Linked DNA regions of Homo sapiens. The protein of the gene in region 3 purifies or fractionates together with the protein of the main gene of each other region. This does not show direct contact. Each region holds a gene or a part of one and is shown on either strand. Other genes may lie near its edges.

Region 1 (3,500 bases), on a different chromosome or scaffold from region 3:
ATTTCTCACACATGTATAATGAAAAAATGGAAGTCCAAGGTCCTTCCAGATCTAAAATTCTACAATGTTATGAAACTAAATCATAATAGCAGCAATCCCTATTACTCCTGAAACCCCACCTCAACCTCACATGCAGCCCCTTTATACTGAGGGAATGATATGCCCGACCTGTTAAAACAGGATGCTTTTTATACCTTGGCTGCAGTCTTAATATCCGTGATGTTTATAAACCACTGCTTGCTGGCACGAATAACCACAGGTTTCTTGGTCCTCCAGTCATACGGATAGCTATGCACCAATTTCTCCTCTTTCAACAAATTCTTTGCAGTCTGAAGCATCTTTATAACTTTAAAAAAAAAAACACCAAATTAGACATAATTAAAAAGTACTGTGAAAATCCTAAAAATGCTCTAAACTTCCAGAAAATACTAAATCTGCAGCAACAGGTGGCAATAAGAGTAGTCACCTTGCCAGCCACAGTGGCTCACACCTGTAATCCCAGCACTTTGCGAGGCTGAGGCAGGCAAATCACGAGGTCAGGAGTTCGAGACCAGCCTGACCAACATGGTGAAACCTCGTCTCTACTAAAAATGCAAAAATCAGCCGGGCATGGTGGTGTGTGCCCATAATCCCAGCTACTCAGGAGGCTGAGGCAGGAGAATCGCTTGAACCTGGGAGGCAGAGGTTGCAGTGAGCCGAGATCGTGCCACTGCACTCCAGCCTGGGTGACAGAGCGAGACTCCGTCTCAAAAAATAAAAGAGTAGTCAACTTGGCTGGGCGTGGTTGCTCACGCCTGTAATCCCAACAGTTTGGGAGGCAGAGACGAGAGGATCACTTGAGGTCAGGAATTCAAGACCAGCCTGGCCTGCATGGTGAAACCCCATCTCTATTAAAAATACAAAAAAATTAGCAGGGCACAGTGGTGTGAGCCTGTAATCCCAGCTACTTGGGAGGCTGAGGTGGGAGAATCATTTGAACCTAAGCTAAAGCGGAGGCTGTAGTGAACCGAGATTGTGCCACTGCACTCCAGCCTGGGCAACAAAGCGAGACTCTGTCTCACAAAAAAAAATAAAATAAAAAAGAGTAGTCACCTTCCAGGTATCAAAGGCGTGCTCTGGGATTCTCCTGGCAAAAAAAAGCACGGACTGTAAAATCTTAATCAGACTCCAAATTATGCCACTTCTACCTCTTTTCACGTCAAAGAAAAGATGAACAGATTATATCTAGAATTCTACATTTGAAGTTTAGATCCATAATCTTTCATGCCATGAATCTTAAAATGGTCTCCAGGTAATCTGGAGGAAACCAGGTGTAGTGGGTTGAACTGTGTCCCCAAGAAGATCTAACCCCCAGCACTAGTGAATGTGACCTTACTTGGGAATCAGGCCTCTGCAGATGTAATCAAGTTTAGATGAGGTCACACTGCATTAGGGAGCACTGGTGTTCTTAGAGGAGGATAGAAAGAAGATTATGTTTTTGCCACTGATTCAGCCATGTGAAACTCATCTCATTACCCTTTTCTGGGTTTGAAGCTGCTGTCTCTAAAAGTGCCATCTCATTGTGCTTAATATCAGTTAATGCTAGAGAAATCTTAAATAGCTTATGTACAAAACTTTTTTAAATTTTTGTATTATTTTGAAACTTTGCTTCTTTGGGTGGCACCCTGGCCACCCAGTTTGACTGTGACAGCCCTCTACAGTCTGTGAGCTGGCAGATTTTTTTTTTTTTTTTGAGATGGACTCTCGCTCTGTTGCCCAGGATGGAGTGCAGTGGTGCAGTCTCAGCTCACTGCAACCTCTGCCTCCCAGGTTCAAGTGATTCTCCTGCCTCACCCTCCAGAGTAGCTGGGATTACAGGCACCTACCACCACACCTGGCTAATTTTTTGTATTTTTAGTAGACACAGGGTTTCACCATGTTGGCCAGGCAGGTCTCGAACTCCTGACCTCGTGATATGTCCGCTTCAGCCTCCCAAAGCGCTGGGATTACAGGGGTGAGCCACCGTGCCTGGCCGGGCTGGCAGTTTGCTGATCTTTTAAAGTTTCTTTCCCTACCCAATCCCCACTTTCCGATAAGGTTTCTGTAAAGTCTGTCAGGTGTACATCCTGCAGCATACTGGCTTAAAACGTACTGTCCTTTGATATAGTCTCTTTGGGGCCGATTGGGAGAAACAGAAATCAATAGTCCACCTGCTTTGATACTGAATATTGACAAGTGTCTTTTTGAAATAAAGAACCAGTCCCTCCAATAAAAAAAAAAAAAAAAAAAAAAAAAAGAGGATTCACAGAGAGACATTTAAGACCTAAAGAAGGTGGCTGGGTACGGTGGCTCACACCTATAATCCCAACACTTTGGGAGGCCTAGGCAGGTGGATCACTTGGGGCTGGGAGTTTGAGACCAGCCTGGCCAACATGGTGAAACCCTGTCTCTATTAAAAATAAAAAATAGGCCGGGTGCGGTGGCTCATGCCTGTAAACCCAGCATTTTGGGAGGCCAAGGCAGGTGGATCACGAGGTCAGGAGATCGAGACCGTCCTGGCTAATATGGTGAAACCCCATCTCTACTAAAAATACAAAAAATTAGCTGGGCATGGTGGCAGGCGCCTGTAGTCCCAGCTACTCGAGAGACTGAGGCAGGAGAACCCATGAACCCAGGAGGCAGAGCTTGCAGTGAGCCAAGATCGTGCCACTGTACTCCAGCCTGGGCAACAGAGCGAGACTCCGTCTTAAAAAAAAAATAAAAATAAAATAAAAAATAAAAAAATTATGGCCTGACACAGTGAGGGCTCACGCCTGTAATTCCAGCACTTTGGGAGGCTAAGGTGGGCAGATCACCTGAGGTCAGGAGTTCAAGACCAGCCTGGCCAACATGGTGAAACCCCATCTCTACTAAAAATACAAAAATTAGCCAGGAGTAGTGGTGTGTATCCTGTAATCCCAGCTACTTGGGAGGCTGAGGCAAGAGAATTGCTTGAACCCAGGAGGCAGAGGTTGCAGTGAGCTGAGATCACACCACTGCACTCCAGCCTGGGCAACAGAGTGAGACTGTGTCTCAAAAAAAAAAAAATTAGCTGGGTGTGGTGGTGTATGCCTGTAATCCCATCTGCTCAGGAGGCTAAGGCACAAGAATCACTTGAACCCAGGACACAGAGGTGGCAGTGAGCTGAAAGCATGCCACTGCACATCAACCTGAGTGAGAAAGTGAGATTGTCTCGAAAAAACAAGTAAGATCTAAAGAAGGCCATGTGACAAGACAGGCAGAGAGTGGAGTAACGCAGTTATAAACCAAGGAATGCCAAGGATTTCCAGGAGCCACCAAAAGCTAGAAAGAGGCAAGTAAGGATTCTCCCATAAAACCTTCAGGAAAACATGGTCCTGCCAGTACGATGAATTTAGACTTCTAGCTTCCAGCACTTGAGAGAATAAATTTCTGTTGTTTCAAACTACCAAGTTTACGGTGATTTTTTACAGTAGCCCTAGAAAAGTAATATATCAGGTCTA
Region 2 (3,500 bases), on a different chromosome or scaffold from region 3:
TCCTGCTATGCAAGTTCTAGACATGTGTGTGACCTTTGCTTTCCAGGGACTCACACCCCCAATGCCCAGAAGAAAAGAAACAGATACAAGGACATAATCTACAACTGCCAAATACACAGGCAGGATTTCTGTGTTCAGCTGTGGCCATGACCTAGGACTAGGTGATTCCATATCCCAACCCAGGGGAAAGGGACTTGGAGCTGGGGCAGCGGCTCCATTAGGAACCAGGTCCTTGGGCTTCCATGCCTCTGGCTGCCTTCTCACCTCGCACCCCAGCAGGGCTGACAGCTCCTGGGCTTTGCTGTGTTGTAAGATGTTCCCAGCATTTGTAACAAAAACCACGGGCACCCGCAGCTGCCCCTGGGAGTTCACCAGCCTTCGGAAGGCTTTCAGAGCAGCAGGGATCACTCTGTGGCCCCGCACAAGCACTCCATCGATGTCCAACAGGAACCCAAAGGTGGGTGGGCTCTGCAGAGATGGTAAGATAATTACCAGTACGTGAGTAACAAAGAAACAACCCTTACAAAGAGAGGCTCAACACCATCCTCGGGTCACTCATGTCCCTTGAAAACCTATGTCAGAAAGAACAAAAAAATGAAGATGGGATTCTGATAGGGCAATCTTTAAATAGAAAATAGAGAAATCCAAAGAAAATATAATCCCAACACTTATTTTTAATCATTCGCTTTTACAGAGTCTTCCCGTTGCCCAGACTGGAGTACAGTGGCATGATCACGGCTCACTGCAGCCTTGACCCACTGGGCTCAAGGGATCCTCTCGCCTCAGCTTCCTAAATTTAATGCTAGGATTATTAGGCGTGAGCCACCGAGTCCAGCCTAATCCCAACACTTTAAAACAACCAATTAATAGTTCCCCTTTTTTCTCTATTCTCATATTTGTCTTGTAGCTACAAATGAACTATATGCCATTTTACATCATCTCGTTCTTTTTTGCTTGACATATCATAAATATTTTTATGGATTACAATAGTCTTTATAACCATCTTTTAAGATTTTATTATAGCAAAAAGTTAAAAACAAAATAACCTCAATCACTACAGACAATATAAAAATGTTTCAAAAGTTTCTTGTCTCCAACTTACTTAGTCCTATTCCTGTCCTGCATAATTTCCAGAAGGCTTTTATAAATCTATAGTATACACACCTTTCTAATGTTAACACACACATAGAATCATGTTGACTTTGTTTTCCATCTTACTTTTTTAGTTGGTATCTCTTGGCTGTCTTTTTTTTTTTTTTGAGACAGAGTCTTGCTCTGTCGCCGAGACTGGAGTGCAGCAGCGTTATCTCAGCTCACCGCAACCTCTGCCTCCCACGTTCAAGTGATTCTTCTGCCTCACTCTCCCGAATAGCTGGGATTACAGGTGCACCCCACCATGCCCACCTAATATTTGTATTTTTAGTGGAGACGAGGTTATGCCATGTTGACCAGGCTGGTCTTGAACTCCTGACCTTAGGTGATTCACCCACCTTGGCCTCTCAAAGTGCTAGGATTACAGGCTTGAGCCACTGCACCCTGCCCTATCATTCCATATTAATTATGCATAGCTCTATTTCCTAAACATCATTTCTGGCTACATACTATTCTGAGTGAATAATTCACTAATATTGTTCTCTATATTTTGGACAGTTAGGTTTTTCCACAATTTTGCTATGAAAAATAATGCTACAAGGAACCTCTTCAGGAATACTGATTTTTTTCCCATATTATGGGTATTTCCTTGAGCTAGATTCTTAAAAATAGGAGTAATAAATCAGAGAGAGCAAATGTAATTACATAAACACCAACTGACAAACTGCTGTTCAAAAACATGTCCACTGGCAACGTACTTTACCCTTACAATATTGATTTTCACAACTGTTAATTATCAAACTTTTTTATAATTTAAAGGTAAAAAAATTATCTCTTTTCTATCTGCATTTCCTGGATTTATAAAGCTGAATGCTGTTTTTAAAAATCATTCCATTTCTCATTTTATAAACTGCCTGTTAACATACAAGATGTTCTTCAATCATCAAAAAAACCTAACCTAACTTGTTTGCTATTTTTCTTTGTTGGTGCCAACTAGGTCAAGTCATTCTTACTGACACACCTACTCTACGCACAGAGCTCCCTTTATAGAGCAACCAGAAACAGAAATGGCGCTACAGGCCAGGTGTGGTGGCTCACGCCTGTAATCCCAGCACTTTGGGAGGCTCAAGAGGGTGGATCACTTGAGGTCAGGAGTTCAAGACCAGCCTGGCCAACATGGTGAAACCTCGCCTCTACTAAAAATACAAAAATTAGCTGGGTGTGGTGGTGGGCGCCTGTCATCCCAGCTACTCGGGAGGCTGAGGCAGGAGAATCACTTGAACCTGGGAGGCAGAGGATGCAGTGAGCCGGGATCGTGCCACTGCACTTAAGCCTGGGCGACAAAGCTAGACTCTACTAAAAAAAAAAAAAAAAAAAAAAAAAGAAGAAGAAAGAAAGAAGAGAAGAGAAGAGAAAAGGCGCTCCAGTACCTACTTTTTAGCTAAGGTGACAGAGCAAGCAACCAGCCTAGAAAGCAAACTCTAAAACAGCAGCATTTTTGCAAGTGCAAATCAATTCTAGGTAAGTTCTAAATAAATAAACAGAATTAAACAAAGGCAGTTTCTTCAAAGAGAATTTTGAGCCAGACAATGAAAGTGTTAAATACATCCTGTAACAAAACTCTTTGCACCCCCCAGTCACCCCCAGACTAGATGAGTGGTTCCTGCCTGCCTACCTGGTTCAATGAGAAGACAATTAGACAGGCAGCCCCAGGACAGTCTACAGGGAGCCTTGCACTAAGAGATAGGCCCACACCAGAGGAACCTGACCCACAGGGGTGGGGAAGATTGGCCATCACAGGTCTCCGAGGCCAATTTAAGGAGTTTGAAAATGGAAAGTGGTATCATCAGACCTGAACTATAGAAAAAAATTTGGCTGCAGAGAAAAGACTGCATTGGGTGGACTGAAGGGAGTTAACTGAAAGACCAGGTGGGACCAAATGCAACCCAAGACAGAGAAGATGGAGCATTTACCTGGGAGAGTGGTGGTAAGAATGGAGATCAGGGGGCATTATCAGAGACAGAACAGTCATGACTTGGTAACCATCCAGATACAGGGGTGGAGGGAAGAGGGAGCCACACGGACTCCCATGCTTTTTTATTTTGGTCTGGGAACCCGGGAGGGTGGATGCGGGTATGAGTCACTGAACCAAAGGGCACAGTAGGAGCGGGCAGCGAGAGGTCATTGGAGGATACAAGGTTAAGTCCCACTTTGGACCTGGGAGACAGGCAAGTGGAGACATCAGCACTGGACAGGTCCTGGAGATGAAAATTTTGGAAGGTCTCGCCTCTCAGAGAACCAGGAAGAACAATACTACTTAATAATGGACCACACAAGACCTGCCAGCAAAAGACAGTGCAAGGAGGAAAACCAAGAGCGTGTGGGGTCCAGGAAGCTGAGGTATGTCT
Region 3 (3,500 bases):
ATCTAGTACAGGTTCTAATTAGGCCAGATGACTGAGCCATTTCCAATTCTCCAGGGACTTGGCTACATAATGACAGGAGTTGGCCCAGGCAGAGTCACAGGGGGAGGAACAGATCCAGTTGGTTCTTCCATTCTTCCAGAGTAAAAGGATGGCTCCTCTCGTTCGCCAACATTACTTCATCTTCTCCTCTCTTCCTGATGATCTCCATTGAATTTTGTGGAAATCAATTGTAATTAGGAAATATAAATTCTGAGTCAGTGTTACTGCTTGCAGATATTAAAAATAAAAAGCAGAGTCCCCATCCTGGGAAACTGCAGTTCAGCTCTAGCAAATAGTTCAGGGATTCTTCCCTGTGCTCTTTACACGCTGCCAAATGGGATGTCCTCCAGTAGGTGCCACCCCCAACACTGGCTCCGACCAGCGTTGGAATTAGAGTTGACTCAAAGGACTGTTGTTTGTGAATTATCAGCCACTAAGTCTAATCTCATTTTCCCTGAATGCCAACTTTCTTTTTTTTTTCACTTTTAAAAATTGTGGTAAAATACATTAACATAAAATTTACCATTTTAGCCATTTTTAGGTACACAGTTTAGTAGCATTCAGTGCATTAATGTTGTCGCAGCCATCACCAGCATCCACCTCCAGAACGTTTTTCATCTTGCGAAACTGAAACTCTGTCTGCATTAAACACTAAGTCCTCTTTTCCCTCCTCCACCCCAGCCCCTGGCAACCTCCTGCCTATTTTCTATCTCAGTGAATTTGGCTATTCTAGGTACCTCCTATGAGTGGAATCATAGTGCTTGTTGTTTTGTGACTGGCTTATTTCACTTAGCATAGGTCCTAGTGTGCATTTATGCTAGGAGCGTAAGTGGAATGTGAGAATAGACCTTGGCCACAGGAAGATTATAATCTGTCAAACAGGATAAGCTTGTCTTCGGTGCTTTATTCAGCAAATGCGTTTTGGACTCTTACACGTGCCAGTCCCTGTTTGGTCCTTGCCAGAGTGCAGTCACAAGAACTACTATGTTTTGCAAATTTATTGTGCCCTGGGAACCATGCTCAGTGCTTGGGTACAGTTGACTGTTGTTGTTGTTGTTTGTTGTTGTTGTTAATAGAAATAGGGTTCTGCCTTGCTGCCCAGGTTGGTCTAGAACTCCTGGGCTCAAGTGATCTGCTCGCCTCAGCCTCCCAAAGTGCTGGGATTACGGGCATGAGCTGCCATGCCTGGTATGATACAGTTGACTTGTTTAATTATAATTAGAGTAACCCTGTCAGCCTGGGTATCGTCATCATCCCGTTTTTAAAAGTGAGGAATCTGGCTGGGTGTGGTGGCTCACGTCTGTAATCCCTGCACTGGAAGGCTGAAGTGGGAGGATCACTTGAGCCCGGAAATTGGAGACCAGCCTGGGCAACATAGTGAGACCACACTTCTACAAAAAATAAAAAAAGTTAACCGGGTGTGGTGGCATGTGCCCGTAGTCCCAGCCACTTGGAAGGCTGAGGCAGGAGCATCCCCTTGAGCCCAGGAGTTCAAGGCTTCATTGAGCCCTGGTTGCACCATTGCACTCCAGCCTGGGTGACAGAGCGAGATCCTGTCTTAAAAAAAAAAAAAAAGAAAAAAAAATATATATATATGGATCTGCGGCTGGCGTGGGTAGAGCAGCGTGTCTGAGGGAGGAACGATTGGGAGCACAGCTAGAACCCATGAGCCGTTGATGCCAAAGGCCGGTCCTTAACGCCCGCCCTGTGTCGCTGCCCTGGACAGCGCACGGGCTCTGCCGTTCAGAACACAGCCACATCCCGTGATCTCATTTGATTTTCACAAGGACCCACCAAAGGAGGCAGAGCAGAATGTTTATGCCTAAATTTTACAGTAGAGCTAACCGAAGCGTGAAACACTCAGCCACTTTGCTTATATTTACATAGTTATGGCTAAAAACCCATGACTTTCTTCTATAGCCTGCTGCTGCAGGCATCGTTACACTCCATGTGGTTTTCTTTCTCTCTTCTTTTTTTAGGGGGTTGGAGCTTTAGAATAGACTTCTATGTTTATCTGTTGAGTAAGACTTTTCTGAGGTCTTCTTGGGGATTCTGGAAAGACCTCTTCTTGCTGTTCTGCCAGCAGTGGCATTTGCTCAAGCAAAAGATTCCGGAGAACAGCAGATCCATGCAGAGAGAAATGAACATTTCATTACTCTCTTCAGGACATTTGCATAGGTTTGAAAGGAAGGATTTCAGTGCCAGGATGGCAGTCAACAGGAGGTTTTGCTGGAGCCTGGCTTTTCAGCCTGGCCTTTGGTTCTTTCCGTTGTTTTCATTGTCTGGATTCTCCAGAACCTCGTGGAGGGAGGCTTACTGGTTGGAGGCAAAATGTTCCATCGCTGCTGATGTTCTAGAGCTCACAGTGGTGTAAAACATTTCCCTGCTACTGACTGTAGCTAATTTTAGTTCCTCCGTCAGAAATTGTATAACATGCTGTCAGGAAAGGCAGCTTTCTGCGTGTATTCACCTTTCTTGCTTTATGTTCTCCAGTAGAGTCGGCCATTTGCCTGTTTTTCATGATGGAGTTCCTTTGTTTGGGCTGTTCATCTGAATTTCAATCTCCTCTGACCACCTTTTTTTTTTTTTTTTTTTTTTTGAGACGGAGTCTCGCTCTGTCGCCCAGGCTGGAGTGCAGTGGTGCGATCTCGGCTCACTGCAAGCTCCACCTCCCGGGTTCACGCCATTCTCCTGCCTCAGCCTCCCGAGTAGCTGGGACTACAGGCACCCACAACCAAGCCCGGCTAATTTTTTTTGTATTTTTAGTAGAGACGGGGTTTCACCGTGTTAGCCAGGATGGTCTCGATCTCCTGACCTCGTGATCCACCCGCTTCGGCCTCCCAAAGTGCTGGGATTCCAGGCGTGAGCCACCGCGCCCGGCATGCTCTGACCACCTTTATTCATCTGTTTGGGAAACTGGTATTTGGAGGCTGCTGTTTGCTAGTTTTTCCCCCTACTGATCGTTGAATCATAATCCCAGTAGTATATTACAAAACCACATTCAGTTTTGCAAGTCTGTCTTCTCCTCTGTGGTCTAAATATTATGATGAGAAAGAGAAGAGATAGTACTTGCGTTGGATGTTTTAAGACAACATAAAATTCTAGTGTGATTTGTGAAACTTTCATACTAGGGAGGGACATTTCAAAGTGCCACTTTGGGAAGCTCTGGCGGAGAGACATGTCATGTTTAAAGGTGCATTACAAAGTGACCCCTTGCCTGATCTGTGGCATCAGAATTTTATTAGGTGGTTGATGGTTTAGTAGAAGAAAACCACAGTAGAATAATGGGGTGGGGGAGGATGGGTAAGAGGGGCTGGAGAGTAGACTCGAGAAGAAAACATCATCTGAAGGACTCACTGGCTATAATGAGAGAGTGGAGATCGCCTGCTGACCAGCAGCCATCAGTAAAGGCTTTGAATCCTTCGGGAAACCACACCAGGCTTGCATTTTGTTGGGCAGAG
Region 4 (3,500 bases), on a different chromosome or scaffold from region 3:
TGATAAAGGAAGGGCTATATTTTTCAGTGATTGGCTTTGGCCTCCACATGGAAGTGGGTACCACTGGCAGGTGCTGCCTGGAGTGTTGCACGTGGGTGCAGAAGAAACAAGAAGACGGAAAGTGGGAGGGCCCTAGGCCTGGCCTTGACAACGGAACTCCACCCACTTCCAGGTTGGACGAGCTTGCAAAGGAGGGGTGGATGGAAACCCAGGGGGGTATAGCAGCTCAAGCGGCAAGGGGAGAGAGTGTCAGAAGGAGGAGGAATGCCACTGACAGGTGAAGCTAAATAAAAGCTGAAAGGCGTCCCTGGATTTTGTGACACGGAGTACCCTGATGACCTCAGAGCTGCCTGGGTCAAGGGCAGGACAGAGGTCAGAATGCAGTGGCACGAGGATTAGACTTCAGGCTCCCACCTCGGCCCCACATTGCAACCCTGGGCAGCCAAACACCAACATTCTGAATGAACCAGTCTGGGGGACAGCCTGGGCATCGGGGATTTTAAAAAGCTCCCCAGGATTCCAACACGCAGCCACAGTTGAGAGCCACCAATGTAGAAAATCTGCAGAGCTGCTTTTCCCCAACTGTCCTCAAAAGGATCATGGAGGAAATGAGCTAAACATACAGCTTTCCGTGCTTGCCTGAGTCTGATCTTGTAGGGCTAGAACAGGGCCCAGGAATTTGGTTTTTGGGGTTTTTTGTTTGTTTGTTTGTTTTTTAAGACAGAGTCTCGCTCTGTTGCCCAGACTGGAGTGCAGTGGCACAATCTCGGCTCACTGCAACCTCCACCTCCCAAGTTCAAGTGATTCTCGTGCCTCAGCCTCCCAAGTAGCTGGGATTATAGGCATGTGCCACCACGCCCGGCTAATTTTTTGTATTTTTAGTAGAGATGGGGTTTTGCCATGTTGGCCAGGCTGGTCTTGAACTCCTGACCTCAGGTGATCCACCTGCCTCGGGCTCCCAAAGTGCTGGGATTACAGGCATGAGCCACCGCACCCAGCTAGTAATTTGTATTTTTAACAAGCATTCGGGTGAAAGGGAGGCAGGAAACAGAGCTGCAGCTGAGACAGTTTTGCTAGGTTTGTTTTTGTGATTTGGAGAGATGTAAACGTGCTACAGATAGGCAAGCCTAGGTAGAGATGCTGAGGGTGAAGAGATGGGAATGGAAAGGCCTAAGAGAGAGCAGAAGATTCCAGAGAGCGTGTGGGGAGCAGACTCCAGAGCCCAGGGCCAGGGGGTCTTGGGAAAGGGGCCAGGAGGCGAGGAAGGGGGCACAGTAGATGCAGATGCGATGTCAATAACAGAGCAGGGGGAGCCCCTTCTACAGTGTCTGTCTTTTTCGTGAAGCAGAAGGTGGGCGGGACAGGGAGAAGGATGGAGCTATGGCCAGTGGGAAGTCTTGGGAATGGTGGCTCTGGAGAGTGGTGGGGAGGAGACAGGAGATGCAGGGCAGGCATGCCGGCAACGGGACGCCCGGTGAAGGCCGGTGACCGCAATCGCCCTGCCTTCTCTGCAGAGGACATGCAGGCGCCGACCCACAGAGAAAGGTGAGCTCAATTGGGCCAGACTAGACGGCAAGAGGGAGAGTCAAAGGACCGATTGTGAAATCTGAGCTAGTTAGGAAAAGTAAAGAAAGGCACTGATGACTGGGAGAAAATAAGGGAGCAACAAAGTAGAGGACAAGTGAAGGGGAGTGGCTGATATAGCCGGCCAGCTGGCCTCACAGAGAGCTGCACAGAGCGGCGCAGGAGAGACAGAACCAGTGGAACCGCGCACCAGCCCCGAAGCTACTCACACTCCAGGAGCTCAGGTCTGGACTTGGCCAGGAAGGTCTCCAGCACCTTGGCCTTGAGAGATGTTGAGTTCGGATGTGAGCTGGTGGCTTTGGCTGCAGCTGGGAGAGGAAACAGAGAGTGATTTGCAGAACAAACTCAGAGTGGACACCCCAAAGCTCCTTGCCCATGATAACTTACCCTCCAAGCCAGCTTGTTTTAAATCCACTAACTGTTCCGGGGCTCCAAACGTGGGAAGCTTGCTGGGTAAGGCAGGGACAGGGGCTGGGGGTAAGGAAAGGGAAATATGATACAGAGCAACGGGATGGCCTCTACTCCCTTCCACACTGATTAAGAGCCACTTCTACAAACACACGCCTGAACAGCAGGACAACACAGGGGAAAACAGACAAGGCTAAAGTCACCTTATTCATCTCACTTATGCTTGTCCTCCCCTCCAGCCTCAGGCCTGCTGCCATTACAGAATGGAATCATATAGAACCCATCACAGAACCCTGATGAGAGAGGTCGACTCTCACTACCAGCATTTAGTTCTGTGCTCGGGCAGTCTCAAGAAACGAACAGTTGCAGAAATGCATAACTTACGAGGTTTCTTGGATTTCTTTTCCTCTTCTGCAAAAGAAAGTTTTCAGATTTAATTTCTTTTAAGGCACAACACAATGACATTTTCAAAATAATAACATTCATGTGCATGAATTTGACCCAGACAAATAAAAGGATGTTTTAATTTGAAAAACAGAAGGAGTCAGCAGGCAAAATGAATCTATAGTGATAGAAACCAGCATGAGCGGTCGTGGGGGCGGGGACTGACTAATAAGGAGCATGAAGGAATTTTCTGGAGAAAGGGAAATTCTTTATCTTGATTTGAACAATGGTAACACATGTATGCATTTGTCAAAATAGATCTAACTGCACATTTAAGATTTACTGCAGGGAAAAAAGAGATTTACTGCAGGTAAATTATATTTCCATAAAGGAAAAAACACAAAAACCAAATAGGGAATCAGAAAAAAAAAAATGCTTGCCAAGGGCTGGGCGCATGGTGGCTCATGCCTGGAATCCCAGCAATTTGGGAGGCCAAGGTGCAGGAACCACTTGATCTCAAGCGTTAGAAACTAGCATGGGCAACATGGGGAAACCCCATCTCTACAAAATTACAAAAAAAAAAAAAAAGAAAAAACTAGCCAGGCCTAGTGGCACACACCTGTAGTCCCAGCTACTTGGGAGGTGAGGCAGAAGAATTGCTTGAGCCCAGGAGGATGAGGCTGCAGTGAGCTGTGTTCTTGCCACTGCACTCCAGCCTCAGCAACAAAATGAGACCCTGTCTCAAAAAAAAAAAAAAATGCTTGCCAAGTCTTTTAAAAATATCTGGAGTGTCTACCTACAGGAACTGAGTTTGGCTAAAATAGTCGTTCTCAAAGTCTGGTGCCCAAGCCAGCTGCAGTGACATCACCAGAGAACCCCTAAGAAATGCAAATTATTGGTCAGGCACTGTAGCTTACTCCTGTAATCCCAGCAATTTGGGAGGCTGAGGTAGGAGGATTGCTTGAGGCCAGGAGTTCAAGATCAGCCTGGACAACATATCAATATCCTGTCTCTACAAAAAAAAAAAAATTGTTTTAATTAGCCTGGCTTAGTGGCACATGCCTACAGTCCTAACTCCTCAAGAGGCTAAGGTAGGAGGATCACTTGAGCCCAGGAGTTCGAGG
Region 5 (3,500 bases), on a different chromosome or scaffold from region 3:
GAACTACAGTTGAGCCTTCAACAAGGTGAGAATTAGGGGCATGGATAGCCCAGAGTTGAAAATCTGTGTATAACTTGACTCCTCAAAATTTTAACTACTAATAGCACACTGGTGATCAGAAGCTTTACCAATAATATAACCAATCATTTAACTATTTGTAGGTTATATACTGTATTCTTACAATAAAGCTAAAGAAAATAAGAAAATCATTTGCAAAATACATTTTCAGTATTGTATATGTTTATGCTGTCTGTTTAAAAGACAAATCGTCTCTCTGAAATGACAGGTAACCACAGCTGCACACCTCAACCTATGGTACAGATCAAGCAATTTAATATTTCCTTGTAATGTCATAACTTTTCTGTTTCTTGGGAGTGCTTTCAGCATCATTAGTGATATTTCGTATGGGTCCCATGGTGTTATTCAAGGCTTTCAGTATTGTACTAAACATGATGAAAACTACTCATTGAAGAGAAATCACTTTTTACTGCATCCAAATTTACTGGAGAGAAGAACTGCTCACATAAAGATGATTAGCATCACACAGTGTTGTAAGCAGATACTTGCAACACAAGCACATTGCAATATTTACAGGAGGTGGCTAGGAAAAAAATTATAGTACAGTATATACTAAAGTTCATTTTATGCAGTTATAACTTAATACTGTATCTTTACATTTGTTTACATTTCTCTTGACTGCAAATGGTGCCCTGAATGGTCTCAAAGTGTTTGTGTGGGTTCATTTTGATAAATTTTAACTCTGTAATAAATCTGTAATAGACTTGTGTATATTTTACAGTAGTAAATAACAGTATCCACATATATTTTATGCATTCATGAAATACCTTTTTCTTAATTTTTTTTATTATTTCTAGGCTATTCAGTTTGTGAGCTTTTTCAAATTGTTACAAATCTCCAAAAAAAATTTTCCAATATATTCATTGAAAAAAATCTGCTCAAGTGGACCTGAGCAGTTCATACCCACGTTTGTTCATGGTTCAACTGTACTACATTAACTTTCAAATTTTCCACTTGATCCCAAGTTTCCAGATTGCAAAGCAACTTCAAAGAAACTCCCCATCAATAATTGTGCTGAAGTTAACAGAAAAATGTTAAGGGTCTAAAGAACTATGAGCATTATCAGCCAGGCGCGGTGGCTCACACCTGTAATCCCAGCACTTTAGGAAGCCAAGGTGGGCGATCATGAGGCCAGGAGATAGAGACCATCCTGGCTAATGCGGTAAAACCCCGTCTCTACTAAAAATACAAAAAAACTGGCCAGGCATGGTGGTGGGCGCCTGTAGTCCCAGCAACTCAGGAGGCTGAGGCAGGAGAACAGAGTGAACCCGGGAGGCGGAGCTCTTGCAATGAGCCAAGATCGCACCACCGCACTCCAGCCTAGGCGAATGAGCAAGACTCCATCAGCTAGCGGCGGAGGGGGAAATAACTATGAGCATTATCCTCCAATTTTTAACAGACGGGCAGGGAAACATAAAGGCAGCCCATACTCCACCTGCATTTTTAATGGCAAAGCTCACTCCAACAAAATAAAAAGTAGCCAAATGCCTTCATAGCCCATTTTCAGTGCCAGTTTTATAGTAAGAAAATATAATATCATATAATAAAAGATTAGTAGAATGTATATAAACCTGCATACAAATCACTAAAAGAGTAACCCAAGAGAAAAACAGGCAAATGAAATGGAGCAGCCAATTCTCAGGAAAGTACTAAATGGACAGCAAACAAAACAGAGTAAGTAACCAGGAAAATGCAATTAATAAAATCACTTCTCACAGGAGATACCTTACAAGAGATGCGCCAAAGTATTAAAATCTCAGTCAACACCAAACATTGGCAACCAAGTAAAAAAAAGAGCCTACAGGACTGCTGAAGATGAAGTCTCAACTGGTACAACCACAGTGGAGAACAATTTTGCACTATCTAATAAAATCAAAAACACTCTGATGAAAATCTAGCAGTTCTCTTCTAGGTACATATACAAAAGAAACTCACCCAAGACAAAACAAACTCACACAAGACAAAAACAAATAACTGCCACCCTATCTGTAAAGTATAACATTGATAACAATCTACATGTCCATCAAATAAGGAATGGATATTAAGTTGTGGTTTATTCACATTAGGGAAACTTCTATACCTAAGACAACCATATGAGAGCACTTTTAAGATTGAAAACAACTACTATTAATAGTGTCAGGTTAACTGAAGTGAATCAGGACTGTCCCTGGCAAACCAAGACATATGTCACCCTATTTATGCCTGCCAGAAAGCGAGCACATAACTCAAAAACATTATTAAAAAGAAAAATCAGTTGCCAAATATGTACTGTGTGATAACGTTACATATATTTAAAAGTGTTTTTAGTATACACAAATACCAGATACCGTACATAGATACACAGGCTAGACATAAAGAGACAAATGGATCCATGAAACAGAATGGAGTTCACTAACATATCCACATGGACAACTATATTTCCAAGAAAAGTGCAAAGACAATTCAGTGGAAAAAGTATACTCTCTTCAACAACTGGTACTGAAACAATTAGATATCATATGGAAAAAACAAAAAAAAACCAGAACCTCAATTCATGTCTCACACCACATACAAAATTTAACTCAAAATGATTCAGTGTAATCAAAGTGTAAAACCCAAAACTGAACTTCTAAAGAAAACTTGCATGACACTAAGCAAAGATTTTAGACACACCAAAAGCAAATGAAGAAGAAAGCGAATTGATCACGTAGACTGCCTCAAAATTAAAACCATCTGCCCTGCAAAGACACCATCAAAAGAATGAAAAGGCACGCAGGCAAGCCACAGATTAGGAGTAAATATTTGCAAGGCATTTACCTGATTGATTGACTGACTGATTTTTTTTTTTTTAGAAGGAATCTTCCACTGTCGCCCAGGCTGGAGTGCAGTGGCGCTCACCGCAACCTCCACCTCCCAGGTTCAAGCAATTCTCATGCCTCAGTTTCTCAAGCAGCTGGGATTACAAGCACACACCACCACGCCCGACTAATTTTTGTATTTTTAGTAGAGATGAGGGTTCACCATGTTGCCCAGGCTGGTCTCGAACCCCTGGCCTCAAGTGATCCACCTGCCTCGGCCTCCCAAAGTGCTGGGATTACAGGTGTGAGCCACTGCGCCTGACCCATATCTCTAATTTTTAAAATACCTCTATCCAGAATATATAAAGTACTCTCATGCCTGTAATCCCAGCACTTTGGGAGGCCGAGGAGGGCATATCACCCGAAGTCAGTAGTTCGAGACTAGCTTGGCCAACATGGTGAAACCCCATCTCTACTAAAAATACAAAAATTAGCCGGGTGTGGTGGTGGATACCTGTAATCCCAGCTACTCAGGAGGCTGAGACAGGAGAATCACCTAAACCCAGGAGGCAGAGGTTGTAGTGAGCAGAGATGGCGCCACTGCACTCCAGCCCGGGCAACAAGAGCGAAACACTGTCTCAAAAC
Region 6 (3,500 bases), on a different chromosome or scaffold from region 3:
CGCGGTGGCTCACGCCTGTAACCCCAGCACTTTGGGAGGCTAAGGTGGGTGGATCACGAGGTCAGGAGATCAAGACCATCCTGGCTAACACGGTGAAACCCCGTCTCTACTAAAAATAAAAAAAATTAGCCGGGTGTGGTGGTGGGCGCCTGTAGTTCCAGCTACTCGGGAGGCTGAGGCAGGAGAATCGCGTGAACCCAGGAGGCGGAGCTTGCAGTGAGCCGAGATCGCGCCACTGCACTCCAGCCTGAGTGACAAAGCGAGACTCTGTCTCCAAAAAAAAAAAAAAAAAATAGTAGTAATAATAATAGTCAATATAGAAAATAGTTATAATGACTAAGTTATAAATGGGTTTAATAAAGGTATTTTTAAAATGATTACCTTTTAAAAGGATATTTTACCTCAGTTTTTGTTTATTAAGAGTGGTTTTAAAAAGTCTAAGTTATTTCTAAATTCTCAAGGTTCAGCTACCTCTTATACTGTACTAGGAGATCAATATTATTTATCCAATTCATATAAACAGCCTATGTGTTTGTGAGTGTTAACCTACAGAAACAAAATGTCTCAATTACGTATTGTCTAGAAGTAAAATGTCACAATCATGTCTCAAAAATACATATGCCAGGTAACTGCTGATAACTATAATTAAATATTGTGATAGGCTCCAACAAATAATTAGGTAATCACATCATCTCACTGTCCGGAAATGTCTTAGAAGCAAATCAGAAATAAGTATACAAATACTATTTCTTCATTACTTGATCAGAATGCCAGGACATAAGGTACAGATTAAATCAGGGACAGTCTTGTCATTGACAGAGAAATCGCCCATTGTTTTCAAATTAGTACCTATCACATGCTCAAGTACTAGATGAAGTGTTAGGAGTACAAAAACTCCTAATATAGTAACAGAATGGTCAGCTAAACGTGTAATCACAATTTGTTCAAAATCGTTTTCCTTATAGATAGCTTATTAAATAAAAGATAGGGTAACATAAATCTATACTCAATTCTAAAATAAATTTAATTGGCAAAACCAATGAGAAAAAACTGATCAGCTGATACATCAGTGTACAAACATACAAATTGTACTAATTTTGGCTAAGTTCTACACAAATAAAGTATATATAACTATTTCAAAAATGAACATTCAACTCTAATTTTCATGAAGTCCTAATATTAAAAAAAATTTTAAAACTGGATTAATAGATCCTACCAAATATTTCTAAACCAAAAATCTTTGTTTTATGAGTAACCACTGAGAATACTTTGAAGCGCTCCATCAATGATGTGACTGCATTACCAAAGTAGAACTTTTGGCTCAGACCAAATGACTTAAAATTTCTTTCAGAATCTAGATATTGATCTCAATAGAGAACAGAATTGAATATATCTTTTCCTTAAATCAAGAAAATGATGGAACTCATCTTCTAGGGAACTCTACTGGTAAACTTAATAAATCTTATATTTCTAGAAGAAAAAGAAACATGTTTTATAGCATAAATATAAGCTCATAAAACCAATCTGGTTTTGTCAAGAAAATGAAGGAAGACTATTTTGAATGAGGAAATTGGACATGGGCAGTGTAGCTTCCTGTTTAGTTTTAAGACTAAATATAACCTTTGAAAAAAGCAGAATGTTTTCTACCATGTAAGTATCTACTAGTAGTCTAGTAAATGAAGACCAGATTTTCTTTATCGTAAAGTAGGAAGTTCTGAATGATCAAATCACTTTACCTTTCAACCTTTTCAAGTACACTGGAACATCACTTTTAATGCTTTTAGAATCCTCTTCTGTTCTTTCCCATAGCATTTGAGGAGGGTTGTTTTGTGCTAGCCAGTCAGCAACTTTGTTTTCGGGTGCCATCATTCCTGTTTGAATCCCCAGCAAGTCTTGAGTTCCAGGAGAAGACTTCTTGGACTTGTGGCGCTGATCAGAAGTAAACTTTGTCACATGGTCTCTAATAGTTACCTTCCCTGGGGTACTGTCATCAAATTCAATGGTAAATGAAGCATGCCCTGCACCTGTTATATGGGAACTTGGCGTGTCTTTTGTTGGGATTTCATGAATAGTGCTTTCTGTTATTTGTGATGGTTGCTGGAATTCTTTTGTAGGGATTTCAAAATAACTTGGTTCCCTACAGAAAGGAAAAAGTACTTCTTCATTTGCAGCTGCAGATTGTTCCTCAACTTGCTTGGCATCTATGCCGCACCCTAATGAGAAAAATAAGAGAAAATTCAAAATATTTGATTGCTTCTGGCACTTGAGGGAGTCTGGTAATGGCCATGTGTACTACTCCGTGAGAACCAGAAGGCAGATCACAGTCTGGATGAAAACCAATGGCATTTATATCACAGAACAAATGTCACAGAGAAGAAAGAATCTTGATTATAAACATGCGATTTGATTACCAATAGGGGATGGAAGATAAGCAGCAGCAATGGCAAATGAGAGCAAAGCAGTTAAGAAATGGATCTTGCATGGCTAGGTCCATATTTTTTCCAACCTGGATCTAGAATTCATCAAGGTCCAAAAGAATTAAAATAAAATGTAGATGGAGATGCATGTTCAATGTATATATAAAAAGTGACAGAAAAACCATGAACTCCCTTCTCAAGTCGCCAAGATGAGATATCTGAAATATATATGAACACATGTAGTGCTCCAAAGGAGAATAGGTGCTCAAATGAGAATACAAACATGAAGTAAATATGTAAGTGATCTTCTGGAAGTAATGATTCCACTTACCATTCTTCACCATTACATTCGGAAACATTACTTTCAGAATGACAAAGATATTGCTGAAGTGCGATCCTTGCAAGAAGATACAAACATTTTATAAAGACTAAAACATGTGGTTTGCAATCCAAGCAGCAGTGTGAACGAAATAAGGTTAAAATAGGAAATTCAGTTTCCAGACAATAACTCTGGAAGTTTACATTTCCATACAGCAGAATATGCAAAAGTGTCAAAATTCCTTGGAGGAAAGCTGAATTGTAAACCTCAGATTAACATGAGTTGGCAGAAGGAGCAAGCAACTCTGGAACACTATCACTATTCTTCTGTTGCCTCAGAATCTAATACAAAAGTATAGAAACAGATGCATTTATGAATAAAATACATAAATAAAAATGACAACTAAAACGTTTTCGGTACGCAAATGCAAAATAAAAAAATTAAAGATGCTATTGTCCTGTTGTTGAAGAAGCAAAGCATGTCCATTATCAAAATGAAGAGCAAGTTGAAATGAGACATATTTCCCTAAAGCTCAAAAATAAATTCTGCTTTTAAACAGATTAATAGAAAAATCACTTACAGACAATTTATTAGGAAAACAAGGCAATACAGGGAGACTAGGTTGTTTCCAAACATTTTCTAATTAAGTGAAGCGTTTGGTCTTTTGAAACATCTTTTCAAAAATTAAATTTTAGTGGGATCTGTCAGGTACTATAATTGGTTTCTTGACAGCAGTCTGAATATGAAATAATATAAAACCTGAC
Region 7 (3,500 bases), on a different chromosome or scaffold from region 3:
ATTCAAAAATAGGCAAAGGATTTGAATAGACATTTATCCAAAGAAGACAAATGGCCAATAAGAACAAAAAGGGTGCTTGGCATCACTAACCATTAGGGAAATGCAAGCCAAAACTACAAAGATATACCCACTAGAATGACTACTATCAAAAAAATCAGAAAATAGGCTGGGCGCAGTGGCTCATGCCTGTAATCACAGCACTTTGGCAGGCCGAGGCAGACAGATCACCTGAGGTCAGGAGTTCGAACCCAGCCTGGACAACATGGTTGAACCCTGTCTCTACAAAAAATACAAAAGTTAGCTGGGTGTGGTGGCTCACGCCTGTAATCCCAGCACTTTGGGAGGCTGAGATGGGCAGAGGTCAGGAGTTTGAGACCAGACTGGCCAACATGGTGAAACCCCGTATCTACTAAAAATACAAAATTTAGCTGGGCGTGGTGGCTCACACCTGTAATCTAGGCTACTTGGGAGGCTGAGGCAGGAGAATTGCTTGAACCCGGGAGGTGGACGTTGTAGTGAGCTGAGATTGCTCCAGTGCACTCCAGCCTGGGCAACAGAATTATTCCATTTCAAAAAAAAAAAAAAATCAGAAAATAACAAGTATTGGCAAGGATTTAATAAAACTGGAACCCTTGTACACTGATGGTGGGAATGTAAAATACTATGGCCTGTATGGAAAACTGTATGGTGATTCCACCAAAAAAAGTTAAACATAAGAATTACCATATGATCCAGAAATTCTACTTCTGGAAGGCAGTTCAGCAGCTTTCTACAGAACTAAACATACTCTGACCTTATGATCCAGCAATCACACTCCTGGGTATTTACCCAAAGGAGTTAAAAACTTCCTTCCGTACAAAAACCTGCACATGAATGCTAACAGCATCTTTATTTGTAATTGCCAAAACCTGGAAACAACCAAGATGTCCTTCAGTAGGTGAATGACTAAGTAATTTGTAGTATGTCCAGACAATGGAATGTTATTCAGTGCTAAAAAGAAATGAGTTATCAAGCCTTGAAGACATGGAGGAAGCTTAAATGTACGTTACTAAATGAAAGAAACCTATCTAAGAAGGCTACATCCTGCAGGATTCCAACCCTATGACATTCTGGAAAAGGTAAAACTATGGAGACAGTGAAAAAACCAATGGATGCTAGGGGTTGGGGGGAGGGAGGGGTGAGTAGGCAGAACACAGATGACTTTTAGGGCAGGGAAACTACTCTCTCTGATGCTACAATGGAGGGTACATGTCATTATACATTTCTCCAAACCCACAGAACGTACAACACCAAGAGTGAGCCCTCATGTAAACTGTAGACTCCAGGTAATAATGATGTGCCAATATAGGATCATCAATTATACAAAGGCACCCTCTGGTGAGGGAGTGTGAATAGTGAAGAAGGCCATGCATGTGTGGGGGTGGGGGGGAGGGGAGTATATGGGAGATCTCTATACCTTCCACTAAAACTCGCTGTGAACCTGAAAGTGCTCTAAAAAAAACAGTCTTTTTTTTAAAAAGGATGTTTGATAGCATTAGTCCTTAGGGAAACATAAATTAAAGCCACAGTAAGATTCTACTGTCTCCCTTTTACAGCAGCTAAAATTAAAGACTGACCCTGAGGTCATAAGGGTCATAAGGATGTGGTGCTTTAATCCACCACTGGTTGAGAATAGAAAATGGTACCACCACTTTGGAAAACTGCCTTACCATTTCTTAAAAGGATAAACATGCCTACCAGATGATCCAGCTACTCCATTCCTAGGTATTTTACCCAAGAGAAATGAAAACATATGTTTATATGAAATCTTGCTGACAAATGTTCACTTTTATGAACACTTTTTATTGGCAAAGCCACATTTTGAAAACAATCCCAAAATCCATGAATAGGGGAATAGAAAAACAAACTGTGATCTATCCATATCATGAATACTTCTCAGCAATAAAAATAAATGATTAATTCATGTTACAACATGAATCAGTCTCAAAAATAGTAACCTAAGTCAGACAAAAACAGTACACACTGTCAAATTCTATCACACGTCTGTTGTCCAGCAACTTGTGGGGCTGATGCACATCTCTTGGGCCCAGGAGTTCCATCTTTTTTTTTAAAGAGAAAAAAAATCTACGAAACGCAAACTGACATATAGTGATAGAAAACAGACCACTGGGCCGGGCATGAAGGCTTACACCTGTAATCCCAGCACTTTGGGAGGCCGAGGTGGGCGGGTCATGAGGTCGGGAGATCAAGACCATCCTGGCTAACACGGTGAAACCCCGTCTCTACTAAAAATACAAACAATTAGCCGGGTGTGGTGGTGGGCACCTGTAGTCCCAGCTACTGGGGAGGCTGAGGCAGGAGAATGGCGTGAACCCGGGAGGCGGAGGTTGCAGTGAGCCGAGATCACGCCACTGCATTCCAGCCTGGGTGACACAGCAAGACTCCATCTCAAAAAGAAAAAAACAGACCACCGGTTCCACGGAGAAAGGAGAGGGCACAGGAAGCTCTTCCTGGTGTTTGGGATGTTCGTGATCTTGATTGTGCTGAGGATTTTACAGGTACAGAACAACTTATCAAACTGGGTGGACAAAGCAAAGAGGAATGAAAGAGGCAACACATTAATAATGTATTATTTCCTCAATTGTCTGTAAGCTACAGAAAATCTGGGGTATACCTGAAGTATATGATGTTTATTGTACATCGGTTATGCCTCACTAATGCTTTATAGGAGTGAGAGAGGGAGTAGGTGGAGGCAGATGAAGGAGGAAGACAAAGCAGAAGGTATTCTTTTTCTTCTTTTTGAAAATAGTTTTAAATACCCCTTTTAAAAAGAATCACCTTTTGAAATTAAACTTTCCAGAATATACTTTAACATGTTGTTATTTCACTTTTGATAATGTTCCCTATCTTCTATCTTCAGATAGATTTTAACATGTTATTTCACTTTTGGTAACGTTATCTATCTCCTGTCTTCAGGCAGATTTTCACAAGTTATTTCACTGTTGATAACATTACCCATCTTCCATCCTCAAGACAGATCTTCACATCTGTCTACCTCCTATCTATCTTCCATCTTCTGTATAAATTCTGACCCCAGTTCAAGATTAGGTCATTTCAATTTAGTCTGAAACTTAAATTGTTTATTTTGAACCATTTTACTTCCTACCATTAGGATTCTCACTCCCTCAATGTATAATGCCTTTTTATCTTTTGTAAAAATCTGTTTTAATGATGAGCATTCCTTTCCTTTGCCATCTTAAATTCAATGGACTCTAACATGACTCCAGTTTATCCCAATGTTCTGCCATTCCCAAGTCACTAACCAGTTACTGGTGAATTAACAAGGGGGATGTAATCAAATTACATTGCTGAATACTGGCCTTCCTCAGATTTAGAAAACTGCTCATGTAGACGGGAAATTCACTTTATGCAAATTCAAGATGGCAAATTTATATTTACAAGAAACAAGCATGGCTTAATTTTTGTACCTTTATAAATAC

What was found.
Region 1: the proteins of IRF2 (region 3) and IARS2 purify together in Homo sapiens (affinity purification with mass spectrometry; one large-scale study listed by BioGRID and IntAct). This does not show direct contact.
Region 2: the proteins of IRF2 (region 3) and HDHD5 purify together in Homo sapiens (affinity purification with mass spectrometry; one large-scale study listed by BioGRID and IntAct). This does not show direct contact.
Region 4: the proteins of IRF2 (region 3) and TRIM25 purify together in Homo sapiens (affinity purification with mass spectrometry; one large-scale study listed by BioGRID and IntAct). This does not show direct contact.
Region 5: the proteins of IRF2 (region 3) and G3BP1 purify together in Homo sapiens (affinity purification with mass spectrometry; one large-scale study listed by BioGRID and IntAct). This does not show direct contact.
Region 6: the proteins of IRF2 (region 3) and CEP170 purify together in Homo sapiens (affinity purification with mass spectrometry; one large-scale study listed by BioGRID and IntAct). This does not show direct contact.
Region 7: the proteins of IRF2 (region 3) and LARP4B purify together in Homo sapiens (affinity purification with mass spectrometry; one large-scale study listed by BioGRID and IntAct). This does not show direct contact.

The regions. Positions count from the first base shown.
Region 1 is NC_000001.11:220,107,632-220,111,131, reverse strand, and holds part of IARS2 (isoleucine--tRNA ligase, mitochondrial precursor), read right to left. Parts: intron 347-3,500; coding exon 195-346; intron 1-194.
Region 2 is NC_000022.11:17,149,278-17,152,777, forward strand, and holds part of HDHD5 (haloacid dehalogenase-like hydrolase domain-containing 5 isoform 2 precursor), read right to left. Parts: intron 469-3,500; coding exon 265-468; intron 1-264.
Region 3 is NC_000004.12:184,394,551-184,398,050, reverse strand, and holds part of IRF2 (interferon regulatory factor 2), read left to right. Parts: intron 1-3,500. UniProt on the Homo sapiens protein: Specifically binds to the upstream regulatory region of type I IFN and IFN-inducible MHC class I genes (the interferon consensus sequence (ICS)) and represses those genes. Also acts as an activator for several genes including H4 and IL7.
Region 4 is NC_000017.11:56,893,550-56,897,049, forward strand, and holds part of TRIM25 (E3 ubiquitin/ISG15 ligase TRIM25), read right to left. Parts: intron 2,404-3,500; coding exon 2,377-2,403; intron 2,056-2,376; coding exon 1,972-2,055; intron 1,893-1,971; coding exon 1,794-1,892; intron 1-1,793.
Region 5 is NC_000005.10:151,778,454-151,781,953, reverse strand, and holds part of G3BP1 (ras GTPase-activating protein-binding protein 1), read right to left. Parts: intron 1-3,500. UniProt on the Homo sapiens protein: Protein involved in various processes, such as stress granule formation and innate immunity. Plays an essential role in stress granule formation.
Region 6 is NC_000001.11:243,189,282-243,192,781, forward strand, and holds part of CEP170 (centrosomal protein of 170 kDa), read right to left. Parts: intron 2,214-3,500; coding exon 1,737-2,213; intron 1-1,736.
Region 7 is NC_000010.11:858,706-862,205, forward strand, and holds part of LARP4B (la-related protein 4B), read right to left. Parts: intron 1-3,500. UniProt on the Homo sapiens protein: Stimulates mRNA translation.